Linked DNA regions of Homo sapiens: regions 2 and 3 are each linked to region 1. Evidence: fine-mapped expression QTL. A gene starts in region 1. Each other region holds a variant in brackets. All regions are shown on one strand. Distances are between the middles of the regions.

What was found. PIP is the estimated chance that this variant, and not a neighbour inherited with it, causes the effect.
Region 2: its variant is the best candidate, but not a certain one, in a credible set for the expression of ENGASE in fetal neocortex (Walker 2019, PIP 0.80).
Region 3: its variant is the best candidate, but not a certain one, in a credible set for the expression of ENGASE in monocytes after LPS (Quach 2016, PIP 0.74).

The regions. Positions count from the first base shown.
Region 1 is chr17:79,071,785-79,078,985 of GRCh38, reverse strand. ENGASE (endo-beta-N-acetylglucosaminidase) reads right to left here and starts at 4,162. Exons shown (of 14, transcript NM_001042573.3): 1 at 3,896-4,162; 2 at 1,489-1,556; 3 at 1,122-1,323. The coding sequence starts at 4,041. RefSeq lists a silencer at 3,761-4,300.
Region 2 is chr17:79,045,851-79,053,051 of GRCh38, reverse strand. It overlaps C1QTNF1 (C1q and TNF related 1), which reads right to left. Exons shown (of 4, transcript NM_030968.5): 3 at 6,358-6,497; 4 at 3,264-5,514. The coding sequence ends at 4,964. Among named protein-coding and RNA genes, the nearest start is that of C1QTNF1-AS1, 22 kb to the right of the region's middle. RefSeq lists an enhancer at 5,199-6,398. The variant C/T (reference allele first, on the strand shown) is at 3,733.
Region 3 is chr17:79,038,023-79,045,223 of GRCh38, reverse strand. It overlaps C1QTNF1 (C1q and TNF related 1), which reads right to left. Exons shown (of 4, transcript NM_030968.5): 2 at 1,101-1,269. The coding sequence starts at 1,255. Among named protein-coding and RNA genes, the nearest start is that of C1QTNF1-AS1, 14 kb to the right of the region's middle. RefSeq lists an enhancer at 759-1,259. The variant G/A (reference allele first, on the strand shown) is at 2,975.

The DNA of each region.
Region 1 (7,201 bases):
CTGACCGGGGCATCAGGCATCTGCCATTGCATCTAATGGACCGAGCACTGCTACCCCCTGTGAGCCAATGAACAAGGGAGAGAAAGGAGGGGAAGCAGGAAGTCTCGTGTCAAAGTCCCGTCTCTGGCTTCCCACTCTATTTGGAGGGGTAGGCAGTCCCTCAGAACAGAGTCTCCCGGAACTCGAAGGTCGGGGTTGAAAGCCCTGTGAGCTGCGCCCAAGGTTTCACCACCTGCTTCTATCTCTACCTTGATGGTTGGCTCTGACTCAAGCCTTCCCATCAATCACAGGGTCCAAGATTGTTTTATGGACATTTAAAAGCGCCGCGCGGACTCCACGGCAACTTTGGATGGGACGTCTGCACCTGGGGTGGGTGGGGCATGTAACATCTCTGTGCATGAAAGCCAGAGCCCAGCGACCCAGAACAGGATCAGAGCTTAAGGGAAGAAGGTGACGAACACCAAACCACGTGAGGGGGTGAGGCTGCGGACAGGCAGCCGAAGAGGACCCCCTGCCTGCTGTGCTCCCTCCAATCTACTACCAGCCTTCAAGTTGAGGAGGTTCAAGGAGTCAAATGATTCTAGAGCTGAAAGGGACATAAGACACTGCCTAATCCAACCTTCCTTTTTTTATTTTTTATTTTTTTGAGACAGAGTCTCACTCTGTTGCCCAGGCTGGAGTGCAGTAGTGCAATCTTGGCTCACTGCAATCTCTGCCTCCCTGGTTCAAGCGATTCTCCTGCATTAGCCCCCTAAGTAGCTGGGATTACAGGCACCTGCCACCATGCCTGGCTAATTTTTCTATTTTTAGTAGGGGCAGAGTTTCGCCATGTTGGCCAGGCTGGTCTCAAACTCCTGAGGTCAGGTGACCCACCTGCCTTGACCTCCCAAAGTGCTGGGATTATAGGTGTGAGCCACCAAGCCCAGCCCAGTCTTCCCTTTTTACAGATGAAACACTGGGGCCTGCCTTCTTCTCGCAGTTAGTGCCATCCCTCCAATGCCCGTCTCCTGACTCCCCGCCCAGTGCTCTTTCTACACATGGCACTCTCTCCCGCCCCTCCAGCCCCCACCCCAGCAAAGGAGAACAATGTAAGCAACATCAATGTAAGGCCAGGTCCTCACCTGTCATCCAGGTACCCGCCCATCATGTCATGACACAACAAAGTCCGGGGCCTCTGGCTGCTCAGAGGGGGCTGGCGACACGCCAGGGGCTCCAGGGCCACATTAAAGCCATCCTCCAAGCGGGGCTTCCACGCCAAGAGCTCCTCCAGCGAAGACAAGTAAAAGCTGATTGGTTTGGTGGTGTCCTTGTCATAATATCTAACTGGTCCGAGGACAGAAACATTGAGCAATTAATGGAAACTATTATAGGATTAATCGAAACATTTTAACAATAACAGAGAAGGAACATGAGAGGGGGCAGGGGCTGACCTGCCCCAAAGCCCCAGGTGTGAAGGTGGATCGGTATTCAGAGCCTCTGTCTCCTCACCTGGCAGGGGGTCCGGGGAAAAACTGACCACCTCTCGAAAGACTGTCTCTTCTTCTTCATCTTTGATGCTAAGCAAAGAGGGAGTTGTACATTTATAAATAAAAACATAAATAGGTAAGAACACTTAGAAGCAAATGGACCAGTTTCATCTAAACACAGAGAGATATTCTCTGCCTTATGTTGTTTAATATTAACTATAGAAACATTGTATAAAGCAAGGAAGTGCCCTGTGATAATCCTAAGGTTTTACCTATATTAGCAACCAGGGCTTGGCTTCCACATGGACACACGTACCAATGATTACTCCTAAGAATAAACCTTACCCTAGGCCAGACGCAGTGGTTCACGCCTGTAATCCCAACACTTTGGGAAGCCAAGGCAGGCGAATCACCTGAGGTCAGGAGTTAAAGACCAGCCTGGCCAACATGGCAAAACCCCATCTCTACTAATACAAAAATTAGCTGGGCATGGTGGCACACGCCTGTAATCCCAGCACCTTGGGAGGCTGAGGCAGGGAGAATCACTTGAACCTGGGAGGCGAAGGTTGCAGTGAGCCGGGACTGTGCCACTACACTCCAACTTGGGCAACAGAACGAGACTCCATCTCAAAAAAATAAATAAATAGAATAAACCTTACCCTCTAAAGCAGCCACCCCAATACCACAAAGACCAGACATAAATACTTCACAGGGTCCCCAGGATTTTCTATGGCCAAGGGGCAATATCCAAATACCCAAAGCACCAGAAAGTTTCAGGTCCTAAGAGAGCAGAGACCAGGCTTCCTCTATAGGCCACACTTCCCTAAGTGCCTTCCGCGCTGTTCATGGATGTATGTTACAGGGAGAAAGAGTTCCTTCGTTCCTTCGGTACATTAACATGGAAAGCTCCTAAATACATCTCAAACCACTTTCTTTTAAAAATTGATTGATTAATTGAGACAGAGTCTCGCTCTGTCGCCCAGGCTGGAGTAAGGTGGTGAAATCTCAGCTCACTGCAACCTCCAGTTCCTGGGTTCAAGTGAGTCTCCTGCCTCAGCCTCCCAAGTAGCTGGGATTACAGGCATCTGCCACCACGCCTGACTAATTTTGTACTTTTAGTAGAGACTGAGTTTCACCATGTTGGCCAGGCTGGTCTCAAACTCCCGAACTCAGGTGATCACACGCCTCAGCCTCCCAAGTGCTGAGATTACAGGCATAAGCCACCATGCCTGGCCTAAAAAATCATTATTATTTTAGGAGCAGTAAGAAGACACCGCAGTGGCTATTTAGAGGCCATGGCACCAACGTTGAGATTCCCTAAATCTACCAACGCCCAAGGCCACTTCTTTGTTCACTGAGTTGTCATCTGCCATCACTCCACTGCCATTCAGAGGCCTGTTGCAAAGAGTCCTCTGTAGCATCTGCCATCACCAAACACTGACCCAGGGCCTCCAGAATGACATTGGGAGACCCTGAGAACTGCAGGGGTCGGGGACGGATTCAAGCAGAGATGCCGCAGTTGTTCCTCTCCACCTTCCTTTTCCAAAGCCCCCTTCCTCGTTGATGTCCTTATTATACTTCAGCCACCCCCTCCCAGACCTTCTCAGAACAATCCCACACCAGGTCACCTTTGTCACCTGTCATTCCTCCACTAGGAGGGAAAGAGCCATCTCCACATTCCTCCTGTCCAAAAATATCTTTCCCAGCAGCCAGCCTTCATCCCATCTTCATGAGGTCTGAAATGCTCAGCAGTCTCACTGCTTTGGGTTTAGAAACAAAGCTACGGCTGCTGTTTCCGGAAGCCATGTCTGTGCTCCTAACTTCTCCCCCTGCAACCTACTGAGGGGGAGTTTACCGGGTGGGCAAGTGCCCCCCAAAGGAAGGAAGCCCAGCCCAGAGGGGCATGTTCGTCCCTTTCTGTCTCTGTGCTTTGGCCCTTTCTGTTCCCCGCCAGTTGGATACCCTACTCCCTATTCTCCACCTACTGAAGGCTTCCTCCTCCCCAAAGACTCAGTTCTAGTGTCACCCCTACAGAAGGCCACCCCTTCCACCAGCCGGCATCCACTGAGCCAGGCATGAGCACCGCCGCCGGGATCTTCCGCATAGACCAGCGACGTGGGAAGCAGGGGTCTGGCCGGGGCGTCGGGATTCCCGCTGGGCCCCGCGGCCACTCGGGTTTGCACCCGTATTTCTGAGATAGGCAGGGGTCACGCACGGGGGCCGGAGGCCGCTGCCCGGCAGTGGCGCGAGGACGGCGGGGCGGACCGGGGCGGAGGGGCGCTGCCACCCTCTGTCCCTTACTGTGCACGGAGCGGACACAGGCGCCGGCCCCCCGCCCCTCGGCGCGCCCGTGCCGGGAAACCTCGGGCCCCGGGGCCACGGACTCTCAGCCCCGCGGATCGGGGTTCACGCGGGCCCCGCAGCCCCACCTCCTTCCCGGCCGCCGCCGCCGCGGCCGCGGCTCCTGATCCTCCTGCTCCTCCTGCGTCCCCGCCTCCGGGGCCGCCAGCCCCTGCAGCTGCCGCCGCCGCCGCCGTGTAGCCGACCGGGTGACCGTCACCGCCGCGGCCTCCATGACACTGTCCGCGCACGCCGAGAGGCAATCGCAGGCCCGGGCCCGCCCCCGCGCCGCGCTCGGCCAATGGGAAGTGCGCAGCGCTGACGCCGCGCTGGGACGGGACTCCGAGCTGACTCCCGGCCAGCGGCCGCGCGGCGGGGACTTTGTTGAGGCGACAGGCCGGGGGCGGGGCCGAGGACGGGGCGGGGCTGTGAGGGGCGGGGCCTGGGCGAGTTCCGAGCCCAGGGTTCGTCGTCGTTCTTGTTGTTGCCCATCATTGGCTATGAGTCCAGGGTGCTAGAAGGCTCTAGAAGGCTTCGGAACGCCCCAATCTTAGAGTTCTCTCTTTAGCCTCACCAGCTTCCTTTGTCAAGCAAACCGAGGTTTATCCCAGAGAGATTAAGCAATCTCCCAGAGGGCACAAAGTCAGCAAATGGTGGCAATGAGATTTTAACTCATGCAGCTAACCCCTATTAAAAGATAATTTTCAGACCGGGCGCGGTGACTCACGTCTGCGATTCCAGCACTTTGGGAGGCCGAGGCGGGCGGATCACCTGAAGTCAGGAGTTCGAGACTACCCTGGCCAACATGGTGAAACCCCGTCTCTACTTAAAATACAAAAATTAGCCGGGCGTGGTGGTGCATGCCTGTAATCCCAGCTACCTGAGAGGCTGAGACTGGAGAATCGCTGGAACCCGGGAGGCAGAGGCTGCAATGAGCCGAGACGGTGCCATTGCACTCCAGCCTGGGCGACAGAGGGAGACTCCGTCTCAAAAAAAAAAAAAAAAAGATGAAAGGTTAGTAGGTTAGTATCGGGCCATGTGGAAGCTGGTGTCCTATGTAGGATGCATAGTTTTCCAGTGAAACACGGATTTCTTTCTACAGCCCCACGCCTGTGCCCAACAGTAGTAGTTGCTCTACCCCTAAGCGTGCAGGGCCTGGAGTGGCACCTCTGCAAGAGTGGCACTGCCCAGCGTCTTAGGCACAAAAGGAGTTCACAGGAAACATGATAGAACAGAGCCCTGAGAAGCCAGAACTCAAGGCTGGGCCCCACAGGGCAAACCAAGGCTCTCCTCCCTCCAGGCCCCAACGCCCCTCCACAGCTAGGAGCTTCCAGTGCTGGGCTGCAGCTGCCGCCCAAGCCAAGTTGACTGGGCCTTTATTATTGTTGCAGACTTTGAACTTTATGAGGCTCCAAGCTTCCATAAACGCCAATGGTGGGAACTATGACTAAGGTTGTTGAATATGGGCCATGGTGCAGGCCAGCCAGTTAGGCAGGAAGGACGGGCCACTCAGAAGCAGGACACGCTGACCCATGGGGAGGACAGAGAAGGCAGAGGGCTCCTCTTTGGGGCTTCAGTCCTGGGAAGCTTACAGTGAGCGAGGGCAGTGGATCCCCAAGTTCCCTCCTGCTGTGTTCAGGGGTGCACCGGACGTGGACAGTCTTGATCTGGGGTGCATGTAACCAGGTGTTCCCAAGCCCTCACCTGCAGCTTAGCAATAAAAATAGATAAACTTTCATCCTACCCAGGTTAGAACACAGTTCTAAGGGATACTTTGAACAGCCTTTGGGTAATGCTCAGTCTCTGGGAGAAAATATGCCCAAACCTCCCTTTTCTTCTCTCCTTTCCAAAGAGTAGGCACCTGGTCTAGAAGAGCAAGAAAGTGAAGGCAGCCTTGCACGCCCCTGAGGACAGAAAGGACTTAGGCCTTGTGGCCTCTTGTTAGCCCCTGTGGCTCGTGGTCTCTCTGGATGTCAGGCCAAGCCTGGAGGGGCCCTGTCTGCCTTGAGCTCACATTGGCTCATACTGGGGCTCTGGATCCGTTTGAGGCCTGAGTGGGCCCTCTAAAACCCTAACCTTCTGGTGTTTTCAGATAACATACAGAGCAATCAGTTAAATTTGAATTCCAAATAAATGATGCCTGGGACATAGGACAAGCTTATATTAAAAAGTTATTGCATATTTATCTAAAATTCAAACTGAACTAGGATGCTGTCTATGCATTTGCTAAATCTGGCATCCCTACCTGTGAATCTGAACTACAGCCTCGGCAGAGCCACCCTGCCCTGTTACAGGGGCCCCTCTGACACCTCCCTGCAGGCTCTTGGCTGTCCTGGGCTCTGCCCACACCAGTACTGGTTGGTTTGGGACAGCTGAGCCTCGGGTCTCCCTGCCTGACCATGCTGTCCCATCAGCTTCCTGTTGCAGGTCGTGACGCAGTGCATGCACTTGCCTCTGCACCCCCCCTCGCCATGCCCAGAGCGCCCGGAGTGGGGACCTAGAGTCACACCTGCTTGCTCTGCCTTCCTCTGCCTCCTCCTTCATGGCCTCCGGGGGAGCCGGAAATGAGAATCAGGTGAGTGGACACCACCTGGTCCCCGGGCTTGGTTGCTGATATGCTGAAGAGTGTGGCAGGAACTAATTGTCCCCAATATTCCTTCCGAGCCTGTCCTTTAGGAACGGAAGCCCCACGTTTTTGCTGACTACATGGTAGCCCAGATGAAGACAGCATTCCCCAGAGGCAGAACTTAGACCTTCCACGTGTACTTACTTACAAGTAAGCTGTGGTTTATGAAACAAGAAACAAAGTGAGAAGTGCAATTCTGGTTGTGCCTGCAAAACAAAGGGGGCATTGCCCTCCACCTTTCCTTCCTGGCTTCTCTTGGTCGCCAGCTGGGTGCAAGGATGTGATGGCAGGAACTGCAGCAACCATCTGAGACCATGAGATGAAAGCCACTTGTGGAAGGGCTGGGAGGGGCCTAGGTCCCCAACAGCAAGACTAGTGTTGCCCTGGACTGCTTATGTCTGGACTTTTTTTTTTTTTGAGACAGAGTCTCACTCTCATCCAGGCTGGAGCTCAGTGGCGTGATCTCCGCACACTAACTGCAACCTCCAGCTCCCGGGTTCAAGCGATTCTCCTGCCTCAGCCTCCCAAGTAGCTGGGATTACAGGCGCCCACCATCACGCCTGGTAATTTTTTGTATTTTCGGTGGAGACAGGGTTTCACCATGTTGGCCAGGCTAGTCTCGAACTCCCACCTCAGTCTCCTGAATAGCTGGGAGTACAGGCGCCCACCACCACGCCAGGCTAATTTTTTTTTTTTTTCTTTGAGATGGAGTCTTGCTCTGTCATCAGGCTGATCTGCCCACCTCAGCCTCCCAAAATGCTGGAATTGC
Region 2 (7,201 bases), 26 kb after region 1:
ATTTCATATAAATGGAATCATGCAACGTATGGCCTTTTCTGTCTGGCTTCTTTCCCTTTTGATAATGTTTCTGAGGTTTACCAATGTTGTAGTAGGTAATAGCACTTCATTCCTTTTTTTTTTTTTTTTTTTTTTTTTGAGATGGAGTGAGTCTTGCTCTGTCACCCAGGCTCTGGAATGCAGTGGCACGATCTCCGCTCACTGCAACCTCTGCCTCCCAGGTTCAAGCAATTCTCCTGCCTCAGACTCCCAAGTAGCTGGGATTACAGGCACACACCACTACGCCTGGCTAATTTTTGTATTTTTTTAGTAGAAACAGGGCTTCACCATGTTGGCCAGGCTGGTCTCGAACTCCTGACCTTGTGATCTGCCTGCTTTGTATAGACACACTGCATTTGTTTACCTGTTCATCAGCTGAGTGGGCACTTGGGTTGTACCTGCTTCTTTGTTATTACTAATAATGCTGCTATGAACATCTATCTATAAGCTTTTCATAGACATATATTTTCATGTCTTTTGGGTATATACCTAGAAGTGTTATGGCTGGGTCAGCTGTAGCTCTATGCTTAACATTTTGAGGAACTGCCAGGCTGTCTTCTAAAGGGGACTCACCATTTTGTATTCCTGACAGCAGTTCCAGCAGCTCCATATCCTCAGCAACACATGTTATCATCTGTCTTCTTGACAACAGCCTTCCCATTGGTTGTAGAGTTGTCTCACTGTGGTTTTGATTTGCGTTTCCCTGATGATACACCTGTTCATGTGTGTATTGGTGGTTGTAGAGTTGTGTCTCACTGTGGTTTTGACTTGCATTTCTCTGATGATTACACCTGTTCATGTGTGTATTGGTTACTTGTATATCTCCTCTGGAGAAGTGTGGGCTGCTTTGCCCATTTTTAATTAGATTATTTGTCTTTTTATTATTGAGTTGCAAGAGTTCTTTATATATTCTAGATATAAGTCCCTTATCAGATATATGATGGCAAATATTTTCTCCCATTCTGTGAGTTGTCTTTTCACTTACTTGATGGTGTCCTTTGAAACACAGAAATTTACAAGTTTGATGATGTGCAGTTGATCTATTTTTTTCTTTTGTTGCTTGTACCTTTGATATCATACCTAAGAAATCATCACCTAATCCAAGGTCATGAAGATGTATGCCTGGGCTTTCTTCTAAGAATTTTGTAGTTTTGGCTCTAATATTTAGGCCTTTGATCCAAGGCCTAATTTTCGTATATGGTGTGAGGTAGGGGCCCAACTCCATTCTTTTGCATGTTGGGACATCGATATCTTGCATTATTTATTATTTTCTGTTACATTCTATTTTTTTTTAATAATCTGGGCAACAATGTCTCATCTTATGCTAGTCATTATGGCCCAATAAAATCAGCTTGCCATCACGCCACTGCGTTCCCATAGTGGACCTTACAGAAAATTATCATTGAGGACTAGTGTGGGCCATGACCTCCTCATCCCCATCCCTGGCTACAAAAGCTCCTGAAAGTCCTAACATAGGCAGTTATTTCGTTGGGCTGAGTCATCAGCCATTACTAAGTCCTTTTGCTAAAACACTGATATTTGTATTGCAACTGAGTTTTCTAGACCCTTTAGTGAGATGGCTAGCCAATTTCTCACCAGCTTGGGACAGGAAACCGGGAGAGGATCCCGTCAAGATCAACTGCTTGGGGAGGCATCAGGTGGAGCAGATCACTTGGTACCAAGCGTGCAGCTCTTCTGAGAAGGCTGACCTCTGTCAGACGGCAGTCGAAACCCTGGGAAAGTCCTCAGGAAGGCAAGGACCATATCTTATCTGTCCTTATGCCTCCAGTGCCTAGCACACGATCTGCCACAAAGCAGGAGCAAGGGAAATATTTGGAGGAAGAATGGGTGGAGCATAAATGCCAGCCTGAAAATATTGGGGGTGGGGAAACCCCAAAGATAGAGGGATGTTAAAAGGAGCATGGAGCGGACTGGAGCAGACCCTGCCTCTTTTCCCATGGGAATTTGGCCAGCAGAGAAACAGGTATTATATGGTCCACGTGACTCCGTCTCCAGAGAGGGTTGTCATTGGGCACCTGTATGAAGCTGGCTGGTTCCCTCCAGGCACCTCTGGGAAGGGCACTTAGCCCTTGCTCCCCACTGCCTGGGAAGCACATCCTCTGCTGAGTGGCCTGAACTCCGCGGAGGTAGGAGCCTGCTCCTTCTCCCGTACAGAGCAGGATTGCAGGGTCCCCTTGATCCAGTCTGGCTCTAGCACAAGGCCAAGCATGAACACATGGCCTCACCCCAGGAGCGGGCAGAGGAAGGAGATCAGCTGTTTGCAGCCTGCTGGCACCAGAGAGAGCAAGGTAGCTTCTGTGCTCCCCGCTGGCAGCTGGATGCAGTGCCTGGCTGTTAACCCAGTTGGCAAGCGATGGAGAGAAGAAGGAACATCTGCTCTGCACCACTGGAGAACAGAGGGGGCTGCTGATGGGTGTATTCAAGCTGCAAGCCATGGTAGAGGTTGAACTGTATCCCCCAAAAAAAGATATGTCCAAGTCCTCACCTCTGCTATCTGTGAATGTCACCTTATTTGGAAATAGTCTTTGCAGACGTAATTAAGTTAGGATCTAGAGAGAAGACCATCCTGGATTTACAGTGGGCCCTAAATATTTACCTGATTCTCTAAATCCAGCAACAGGTGTTATAGTAAGGGAAGGGAGAGGAAGATTTGAGACACACGGAGGGGAAGGCCACATGAAGACGGAAGCAGAACCTGAGGAGATGCAGCCGCAAGCCAAGGAGTGCCTGGGGCTACCAATAGCTGGAAGGGGCAGGAAGGACCCTCCGCTAGAGGCTTATGCCACCCACGCCCCAACCCCAGTTTCCACGGCAGCCCTAGGAAAGGAATAGTGTCCAGGCTGCAGAGCCATGGCCAAGCTGCTACCTCCACAGTTTCTCTCCCTCCCGGGGGACAGTGCGGTCCTGCTCAGGAGATCAAGCCCCTGCCTCCCACCCACCTCTCACAAGTCCCCAGACCCACCCAGGCCCCAGGCGCCCGACTCAGGCACACGTTCAGCTGCAGCTGAGACACGCTGTCGCTGCCCCACCCATGGGAGGCTGCACCCCCTGGAGGAGCGAGGCAACTCAGGGTCCAGCATGCACCTGCTGGGTACCAATGTCCCCAGGTATGAAGCTGAGGGCCTCCCAGGCAGGAGTGGGCCTTGGGTGGAGAGGAGAAGACGAAAAGGATTCAGTTTAATGAGCAAACTGACGAGGCAGGATGCTGAAAACACAATTCTGAGTTTAATGTTTTCTGGAAAGAGCTGGGGGAGCTTAAGCAGCGAGTGTGGCGCTCTGCTTCCGGGCACGCCCACAGCAACTCGGCTTCAGAGTCTGACCCGCAGAAGTTCTTTAAAGAGAGGGACTTAGGGACCCCAGATCCCGGCAGCCAGGCCCAGAGAGGGAAGCAGGATTAGTCAAAACCAGGTGGGGGATGGGGGGAAGGAAGAGAGGCAGCGGGGGTTTGGGGGCCCAGCGGGTAGCAAGAGTGACCCTGGGCATCAACATGGGGTGAGGTGGAGAGGGGCTATGGGGTTCCTGGAGATCAGAGTCTGGGGTGGCCATGGGCAGGGCGAGAGCACCGTGGAGACACCGCAACCCTGCTCCAGCTGGTCCTGCAATTGCCACAGGGGCTATTGCCTCTCCTGCCACCCAGCTCCTGAGAGTGAATCCTGACACGGGTGATTGGGA[C/T]GTGTACTTCCTCTTGACTCTGGTCTCAGGACTGAGGCTCACAGGAGCCTGAGAAACAGACAAGCGGGAGCTTTCTAGCCCCTTCCAGCTCTCCCCTGCTCTGAAGCCTAGAAAAAGCCCCTCTCAGGCTACTGGTCAGAGGCCTGGATGAGGGCAGTGGGGGCAGAAGGGGTCTGGATCAGCCTTGCTGCCAACCAACACAACACACGTGGAAGCGGTGATGCTTAGCCCACGAGGAGATGGGAGACTGCAGTGCTGCTTGAGGTGTTTTATAAAAAACAGAAGCCAAGGCCCCGGGGCCTTCTGGGGCTGATTTGTGTGGGAGGCGGCACAGAAAGCCGATGCCAGGGTGGCAGGCATGGAGACCACCCCCCAGGGCTCTGGGGTGGCACAGGGGTGGAGCAGAGCCACACATGGATGTACCAGGAGCTCTGCCCCTCATAGAAACATCTGCAGGCCTGGGGGACCCAGGGGTCCCTGGCCACTGTCAGGAGCCCTTCGGCTGCTTCTACCAACCTGGAGCCAAGGCAGGGGGCTCAGCTGTCCCTCTGGGAGGCTGACGCCTGGGGCCCCAGCCCCCATCACCTCGCAGCTGTGACTCAGAAAGACCAGCAGAGCCCTTGGGCAAGGCCACAGGGATGTCAGGGTCCACCTATCCCTCAAGAAAGTTCCTACGTGGCTTAAAAGAATTAAGCCAGAGGTAGTTTCCTGCCCCCGGCCCCTCCCCTGACCCCAGAGCTTTAACTTTGGATCTTCTCTTAAGCAGAGTCTCAACTGAAAAGGCCTCTCTCTTGGGAGCCAGCAGGCTGGCTGGAAAGACAAAAATAACAACCCTTTTCTTTGTCCTCCACGGTTTACTTTGCTCCTTTTGAGACCTTTAGAATTTGCCTAATTATTTCCAAGGACTGGAGCCGCGGTGCCGCACCCTGGGACGCCCTGCCGCCACCCGCGTCTCGCCGTGCGGGGTCACTTGAGGATGTGTGCAGAGAGGGCCGCGGAAGGTCCCAGAGGGTTCTCGCGGGTGCCCCGCCCTGGTGATTTCATCTGCCGTCAGCTCTCTCCAGAGGCTGCGGGATCTGGGAGCACCGATCGCTTTGGCTTTCTGTGTGTGCAGGGCGTCTCACTGAATGCCAAAGCCAGGGAGTCGGAGTCCAGGGATCGGGGAAGAGGCGGTGGGGTCAGCACAGCGCAGGGGTGGAAGGTGGCGAGAGGAAAGGAGGTGGCCGGCCAGCTAGGGCTCGGTGGCGTGCTTGACCAGGTAGCCACTGAAGGTGATGTAGGTGTCCAGCTCCTCGCTGAAGATGGCGTTCTCACGTTCGCCCTTGTAGAGGCGTACCCACACCTGGTCCTGCTCTCGCAGCTCCAGCATCAGGCTCTGGCTTTGCATGATGCTGCGGTCGCCCACCTGCGCGAACAAGATCACCACCTCCTCCTCGTTCTTCATGATGTGCAGGTAGGTCTCCTTCTGGTTCCAGGTGTGCACGTTGAGGCTGAAGAAGTAGAGGCCGGGCACGTAGCAGTAGAACTTGCCGGTGAACATGTTGAAGTGGTCGTAGAGGTTCACGAACTCCGTGTCGAAGATCACCGTCTGGTAGTAGTGGTTGCTGTGCATGGGCTTCTTCCGGCCCACCGAAAAGGCGGCGTAGTGGCTCTTGCACCGCTCCCCAGGGGCCCCCATGGAGCCCTTCTGCCCTTTGGGTCCAGTGTGGCCCCTGGCCCCTGCTGAGCCTGTTTTGCCATATTTCCCTTGGAGGCCTCGATCTCCGCGGTCACCCTTCTCCCCTAAAAGGGATGGGAAAACGCGTGCTGTTAATGGAGCAATCCGGTAGTGTCCTGAGCCTTGGCTGCTCACTCTCCGGTCCCTGGCGCTGTCCTGATTCGTCCTCACAGCCCTGACCTGGCAGAAGCTTCACTCCTGCCCCCAGCCCCCTGCCACGGGCGGCGTCCCAGCCTGGCACAGAGGTATTGTGATTCCCAAAATGGCCAAGCAAACAGACTCAACCTCAAGGATGGTTCTATTTTCGCCCAGAAGCAATAATTTTTTTTTCCTTCTGGAAAGCCCTGGTAAAAAAAAAAAAAAAGAAAAGAAAAAAAAGAAAATGGAACATACGGGTTCGTCCAAAAGCAATGGGCTCTGCGGCCAGACCGACGGCTCGCTCTGAGCAAATGAACTCCAGATGTCGGGGCCAGCTGGGGATCTAGGCTGCAAGTGTTTCCAGTTCGATTTCACGGGGCTGTGCAGGGTTATCTGCCGTGTGCAGGACCGGAGCGAGCAGGTGGCATTTCAGAAAGCAGGCTGGGGGACCAAGCCCCAAAGCAAAGGGCCTAGAAGCCTGGCGTCCACATACAACTGGAGGGACGAGACCCCGAGTAGCCTCTGGGCTCCCTCTCCTGCTCTTGGTCCTGTGGGCCCCTTTCCAACCCCTCCTCTTGGAGAGGGGCCAGAGCCTCAAAATCAGAATTTCCTGTGCCTTCCCCTCTAGATGACAGCCTGCCTGCCTCTGCTCCCTGTCCCGAGGGAGCCATTCTGCTCTCGCCTAGCCCCACCCTAACGACTCCATCCCTTCCTCCGGATCAGCACAGAGCAGCCCGGCCACCCCGTGCTTGTCTTTGCAGCCATCTGACCTTTCAAGATAGTGATGTTGATCTGGGGCACGGCGGTCGCCGGGTACATGGAGGTACCGGGGTCACAGCAGCGCAAGCACCGGGAAGCAGGGAGCCCCTGGTCCTGACTGGGCCTGTATTTTTCATGTTGTTCTTCAGCCCTGAGGGAATAAAGAATCACAGTGAAAGTCAGCCACTCTCAGGCCTGGAAACGCTGCTCTCTCCTGCTGCCAGTGGTTCTGGCATGCCTGACCTGCCTTCTCACTCTCTCACCTGGACCCACAAGGCTCTGTGTTCACGCTGGTGGGCTCACGGCCCACTCTGGGATCCTCACTACCGAACGAGCCCCCTGCCCTCTGTTAAAGGCAATGACAGTCCTGGAAACACACGCAGCGATCAATTGAGTGCCACGCAAGATGGGGGCTGCTCGGGAGAAATCCACACTTCTAAGAGAGGGTCTTTGGGTGACACAAGACAATGCCGGGACTCCCTATCGTATATCCGTGATGCTAGAAAATAACATATGAAGCTGACTCGTCTGCAAATAAGAAGGTTCAACTGGATCTTTAGGATTCCCCTCAGCTGTAGCCGCTGGAGAGACTCTTATGTTTCCAACCTGATTGGAAGGACAAGCCCGCAGGCAGGATGGACGGCGGCGGCTCCTGGCTGCCACCTCGCGGCCCCTCATGGCATCACATGTGCTCTGGCTTGTGGCTCTTCTTGCCCAGGCTGTAGAGCTGCGCAGACCCACGGGGGCAGCAAAGTCCCCCTGGATGGGCCAGCTCCTCATCTAATGCTGCTCCCACTTCTGCACCCCAGACTATCCAGGAAACGGATCTCTGTGCCCTAAGTTCAGCTACCCATA
Region 3 (7,201 bases), 34 kb after region 1:
ACCCCATTCTGGCTACCAGGTAGCTTTCCCCTCCTTCTGCACCTGGGAGGCCCGCAGGTGTCCTTCAAGACCTAGTTCACTCCTTTCAGTCTTCCTGGGACCCGCTCCTCCCTCTCCTGGCCCTGCCTCCAGCGTCATGGGTACACCCCTACTACAAAGCCCACCACGCTGCCCTGTCTCTCATGTGTCTATCTCCCTCTCGGCCTCAGAGCTCCTGGAGGCCAGGACTGTGCCACTCATGTGTCCCCCCGTGCCTGGGGGATGGCCTGACTGATAGGAGGGGCTCAATCAAAGAAAGAGGAGGGAGAGGAAGAAAGAACGGAATGATGTGACTCAACCTCAAATCCTGTCCAATCCCATCGTACACTGAAGTTAGTCTGAAGCCTCAAGTATCAAGTCAGCCCAACGCTCAAAATAATGAAGAGACTCCAAGCCAGGCTTGAGCTGTCGCCGGGTCTCCAGGACCTCACTCTGGGTACATGGCAGTTGGATGAAGCACTCGGCTTCCCTAGGAAATGTCCCAGGTCGGCTGGAGTCTCTCTGTCATTGCAGGTCGTAGACACGAAGGCCATCCAGAGTCCTTCACAACCTTTCAAGGGAAGCCGACACTTGGCCCACCCAGTCTCCGCTGTCCTCTCCTGTCCTGCAGTGTGATAAGACGCGTGGGCCATGGACACCAGCTCTTGGTCCAGCATCTCTCCTAAGGCCATGCTCCACTTCTCCCTGCCTCCAAGTGGTGCCTAGGTCCCCAGCAGATATTCTCAGCGGACAAAGTGAGAATGGAAAGACAAACTGGAGGGCAGGTTGGGAGCTTGGTCTGCTCTTAAGGAGGCAGCTGCAAAGCCACTTGCAGACCCCACTCCTTTAGGCTCGTGGTGAGGCTGGATCACTGTCCGCAGTTTCAGGTGAGGTGCCCAAGCCACTGAAAGGAGGAATCGCTCGTCTGTCCTGCAGGACCAGCCTCCAGCAGGGCCACGGCTCAGCTTCAGCTTTCTTGCCTTCACATCTCACAGTGAACTAGCTCCCCCAGGGGCCCCAAGGCCCAGGCTCAGCCTGGCCAGAGCCAGAGCTCCTGCTATTACACCCTCGTGGCCCCTCACCTCTCGGCATGGTCCGGAGGCGACGGCAGCTCCTCAGTCCCCTCCCACTCCTGCTGTTCCCCCTGGACATGGGGCACACGACTCAGGACCAGGCCAGAGGCAAAGGCAAGGAGCAGGCAGTACGCCAGCAAGAGTCCCTGTCCACGGGAGCCCATCTTCCTGCCGGGCCCTGGTGGGAAAGAAACACACAGGGAAGGCACCGAGTTAGGAAGGAGCTGCACAGAGAAACAGCCTGAAAATTGGGGAGAGAAACAGCCTGGAAATCGGAGGTGCTTCCCCAGCCTCACGCCACTGGGAAATGCTGCAGTTACACAGCTTCTGGGAGGACAATCACTCTCACACACCCATGCATGCATACACGCACTCACGACGCACTCACGTGCACACACGCACATGCACACACATTCACATACATGCAACCCCCACACATGCACACACTCAACACACATGCAATCCACACATGCACACACAGTCACATACACTCACATGCAACCCACACATTCACATGCACCCAACACACATGCAATCCACACACATGTAATCCACACACATGTACACACAATACACATGCACAGTCTCAACAATGAAACCTACACACATGCATACATATACCCACATCACATGCACACTCATGCAATCCACGCACCCATATGCACACTCTTAACACACATGGAATCCACACGCTCACATGCACACAGTCAACACACATACACTCACACTCACATGCACATACATGCACATACACAGTCCACACACATGCACTCACACATGCAATCCACATGCTCACATGCACTCAACACACATGCACAACTCACATGCACACATACCCAAATCACATGCACACTCTCAACACACATGCACACACATGCATACATATACCCATATCACATGCACACAGATTCACACACACATGCAATCCACACACATGCACACTTTTACATGCACTCACACACATATACCATCACATGCACTCACATGCAATCCAACATGCACACACATTCACATACATGCAATCCATGCACACATGCACACACATACACACATGCAACCCACACACACATGCAACCCACACATGCACACACATTCATATACATGCAATCCACACACATGCACATTCGCATACATGCAATCCACACATGCACACTTTCAACACACGTGCACACATTAACATGCACACATATACCCACATCACATGCACACTCACGTGCACGCCCGCATACTCTCAACACATTCACATGCATGCACATCCACTCATGCACACATGCGCTCACATGTACACACACCTTCACATGTGCGCACACACTCTGCCCCCAGAGCCTCAGCCAGTCAGGCTGGTGTTGAGGGGTTGCTGAGCAAGGTGCTGTCTCTGCCCACCCAGCCTCTCGGGAAGGAGAGTCCATCAGCCGCTGGCCCCACAGACAATTGTATACCACCCCTCTTAGGACAGTAAGAAAAATCCCAAGCAAGCTTTGAATGATCATCATCCCTTAACTCAAAGCAAAGCTGGCTCAATGACCAGGTCCTTCACCGGTGGGTAGGTGGGTAGGAAGGTGGCTGCAAGCTGCTTTCTGGCCACCAGGCGGCGCATCAGCAGGTGTCCTTGGCATCTACTTTAGGGATGTGCCAAGCCCAGCCCCACAGAGCAGTCATCCTTCCAGGAAGCCAACCCCACGTCTCACTCCCAGAGCTTTTGGCAAAAGCTTGGGGCAGGACCCCCTCCATCCAGTATTGGGACAGTCCTTCTAGAAAGGGGTGCTCACGGAGGTGGGGAGTCCAGGGAGCCCGCGAGGGGCGGCACTTGGGCCCACATTAGGCGAACGCCCACCTGCCACCCTGTGAGCGGCTTGCTCCCCTCGCCCAGGAATCTGGCATCA[G/A]GAGTCGCAGGCCCAGCCGTTTCAGGTGGGCCGAAAACCTCCCCACCGAGGGGCACAGCGACTGTGGTCAACTCTAACCCCTCTTTGTTCACCAAAATGTAAAACTCGAAATGTCGCAGGCCCCGTGGGAACACCTCATTCAACACACAGCCGCCCAGTGAGAAGGTGGGTGAGAAGCGTCCCTCACTCCTGGCTGCCAGGCCGGCGTGGACTCCAGCTCTTTCTTGAGAGGCAAACAGTGAAAGCAAGGGCTCATCTCCAAAGGCCCTGGGCCAGACTCTTTCTCCTCTAACTCCTCTTATGTCTAAGGAAAGTTAAAATCCTGACAGATTTCTTTCTCTGCCCATATTACACACCAAGATGACCGCGACGTCTTACTCATCTTGGGAAGCCGGGAATTTCTTCCACACACACCGTCGCTCGGGGGCTTTGGAGCCTCTGCGGGGGATGTCTGTAGCGGGCTTTTTTTTTTTTTTTTTGAGATGGAGTCTTGCTCTGTCACCCAGGCTGGAGTGCAGCAGTGTGATCTCGGCTCACTCCGCCTCCTAGGTTCAAGTGATTCTCCTGCCTCAGCCTCCCAAGCAGCTGGGATTACAAGCATGCGCCACCACGCCCAGCTAATTTTTGTATTTTTAGTAGAGACGGGGTTTCACCACGTTGGCCAGGCTGGTCTGGAACTTCTGACCTCAAGTGATCCACCCACCTCGGCCTCCCGAGGTGCTGGGATTCCAGGCGTGAGCCACGGCCCAGGACTTTAGTGGGCTCTTGAGTGAAGTCTGAAGGGCTCCCCGCAGAGCCCTCACGCCAAGTCAACATTGCAGGGGAAGATCTGGAGTCCAGGGCTCTCCCGATAGAGCCTCCGAGGTGACAGTGAGGAGAGCAAGGCTGGCCCCCCCGAACCTCTCTCCTCCCCTGTCACACATACCTACACCCAGTCTTCACCACCTTGCATGGCCCACGCCCCATCTCTGCAGTGGCTTAGCTGGAGCCCCCACCTCCAAGTGTCCTACCAGCCAGCTGTCCCTCCCATGCGTCAGGGCCCAGAGACCGTCCCAATGACCAAGGAGCTGCTTAGGCCACAGCCCCCACCCAGAATCTCTGATACCTCCCACCACTTGCCAAAAAAAGGGTGTATGTGCACATGGTAATTTATAAAATACACATCTAAGTTCTCTCTCCAGCTATCCGTCTAGTTAGGTTTGAGAACATTTCCTCATTAATAATTTTTATCCCATCACGGATGGCCCCACAATCCTCTAGGGAGACAATATACATTCATGACTGTAGCAGATATGTAAATGAGAAAACAGAGACTTGGAGAAGCTAATTAGCCTAAAATTCTGATTTTTTTTTTTGACAGGATCTCACTCTGTGAGTGAGTGCAGTGGTGCAATCTCGGCTCACTGCAGCCTCTGCCTCCTGGACTTGAGCCATCCTCCCACCTCAGCCTCACAAGTAGAAGGGACTGCAGGTATGCACTACCACACCCAGCTAATTTTTTTTTTTTTTTTTTTTTTTTGTAGAGACAAATTTTCACCATGTTGCCCAGGCTGGTCTCAAACTCCCGGGCTCAAGTGATCTGCCCACCTCAGCCTCCCAAAGTGCTGGGATTACAGGCGTGATCCTCCACGCCGGGCCAAGACTGATTTTTGAGCAGGGGGGCTGCATTTGGACTCAGACAGGCTGACAACAGATGACAATAAAATCCTGCCCGCCTTGTCTTCAACACCCAACTCAAGGTCTCATAGTCTTCCTGAAGCCTTCCCAGGCCCCTCAACTGGGAAAAATTCTCCATCCTCGGTCTTAGTTTTCTTTTTTGATACAGGGTCTCACTCTGCCTCCCTGTAGCCTCAACCCTCCCGGCTCAGGCCATCTGCCCACCTCAACCTCTCAAGCAGCTGGGACTACAGGCATGCGCCACCACGCCCAGCTAAATTTTTTTGTTGTTTTTTCGTAAAGACACGGTTTCACCGTGTTTCCCCGGCTCGTCTCAAACTCCTGAGCTCAAGCAATTCACCTGCCTTGGCCTCCCAAAGTACTGGGATTATAGGTGGGCGCCATAATTTTATTTTTCCTATTGTCTCCTACTGCAGAGAGTTTGTCTAGCCTATGAGAGTCTACTCAGCAGACCGTGGGTGACCTCCTCCAGGGCTGGGACGTCCCCTAGCCAAGCATCCTGCAGCACCCTGAATCACTGGTGCTCAGCAAATATTTGTCAGACTGAATTCTCTAAATTTGTTTATTTCTCCATTTCTGTATTTCCTCTGTTTCTCCTTGGTGCCTTAATAATTATTCTGTTTTTTCCTTTTAAGTGGCAAACTTGTACCAGTTAAAAGGAAAAGAGATTTTCCTTTCTTTAAATATTTTTTTCCTGAATCCCAAATTTTATATATACACATACACATGTTTACATATATATACATATATACATATTTACATATATATATATATACACACACACACACATATTTATTTAAGAGAGGTTGGAAAGTAACTACAAAACGCATTAAAAAGCTACCTTGGATTATTCTACTCTGTGGTTTCTCAACCCTGGCACCATTGAAGGATTGCTGGGTTTTTTTGTTTTATTTTATTTTGAGACAGAGTCTCGCTCTGTCACCCAGGCTGGAGTGAAGTGGCGCGATCTTGGCTCACTGCAACCTCCGCCTCCCAGGTTCAAGTTATTCTCCTGCCTCAGTCTCCCTAGTAACTGAGATTATATGCGTGTGCCTCCACACCCGGCTAATTTTTGTATTTTTAGTAGAGACAGGGTTTCGCCATGTTGGCCAGGCTGGTCTTGAACTACTCCTGACCTCAGGTGATCCATCTGCCTCGGCCTCCCAAAGTGCTGGGATTACGGGCGTTTGCCACCGCGCCAGCCAACCCTGGCACCATTGAGGTTTGGGCCTAGATAATCCCCTGTGGTGGGGGGCTAGCCTGTGTGCTGTAGGATGCTTAGCAGTAACCCTGGACTGTCCCCACCAGATGCCATTAGCACCACTACCTCTAGTTATGACAACAAAAAATGTCTCCAAACATGGTAATATGCCTGTTCCTCAGGGGCAAAATTGCCCCTAGCTAAGCACCAGCATTTGTTTTTATGTTGGTCTATCTCTTTCTAGTCTAGCAAAGGGATTTTCCACACCTTGGTCAGAAGAGACGGGGTCCAGGATGCAGCTGGGTTAGGAACGATGCTGTCACTGGGGTGGGGTGGGGCTGGGAAACCCCAGCAGAGAGCCCCAGGCTCAGGCTGGTAGGGACAAGGCCACTTTGGCGGTGGTGGCTCTCCTCAAAAGCCTGCTGTTCGGAGTCAGAGCAAACCCAGGTTGAAATCTTTCCTTCCTGAAAAGATCTTAAGAAGCATTTTACCAAATCCCACAGCAAAGCCAGCGTCATAACATGATGATCATTTTAGTCACTTTTGGGCAAAGACAGTATTGCCCAACATCTAACCAAACTTGGCTCCAGATCACTGTTAGTGATTTCCAGCAAAAATCCCCCTACAGTAGGGAGGCTGTGTCCCAGCAAGGTTATCTGGAAGAATGTGTTAGGCAGTTCCAGGGAAGTGCCCTGAGCACATCTTGGCCAGTGACGTGAAACCTGTGTGAATCCAGATCCACGTGGCCCAGTCTCCAGGCCTCATCGCAGGCAAGGCAACTGAAGACAGTTCCAGCATGACTCAAGCTCTTTACTTGCCTTTCCCAAATCCTGCAAATATGAGCCAATTTCCATGGTAATTCGGCGACCATTTTCCTTCCCTCCATGTCCCTGAGGACTAGCCGCTCTTCAGCGTCCCTTCCTCAACCCCACATCATCCACCTACACCTGACCTTCTCCCCAACAAGAACACATCCCCCTTTACAGGAGGAGGGAGGCCAGAAAAGAGAAACCAGGCTACACGCAGGACGTAGAGGAGGACAGGAAGCCTGAGGACACATCCTTGTGAATAATTTGTATCCCGGCCGGGCGCGGTGGCTCACGCCTGTAATCCCAACACTTTGGGAGGCCAAGGCAGGTGGATCACCTGAGGTCAGGAGTTCAAGACCAGCCTGGCCAACATGGTGAAACCCCATCTCTACTAAAAATACAAAAATTAGCTGGGCGTGGTGGGGTGCACCTGTAGTCCCAGCTACTCGGGAGGCTGAGGCAGGAGAATTGCTTGAACTCAGGAGGCAGAGGTTGTGGTGAGCCAAGATCGCGCCACTGCACTCCAGCCTGAGCAACAGA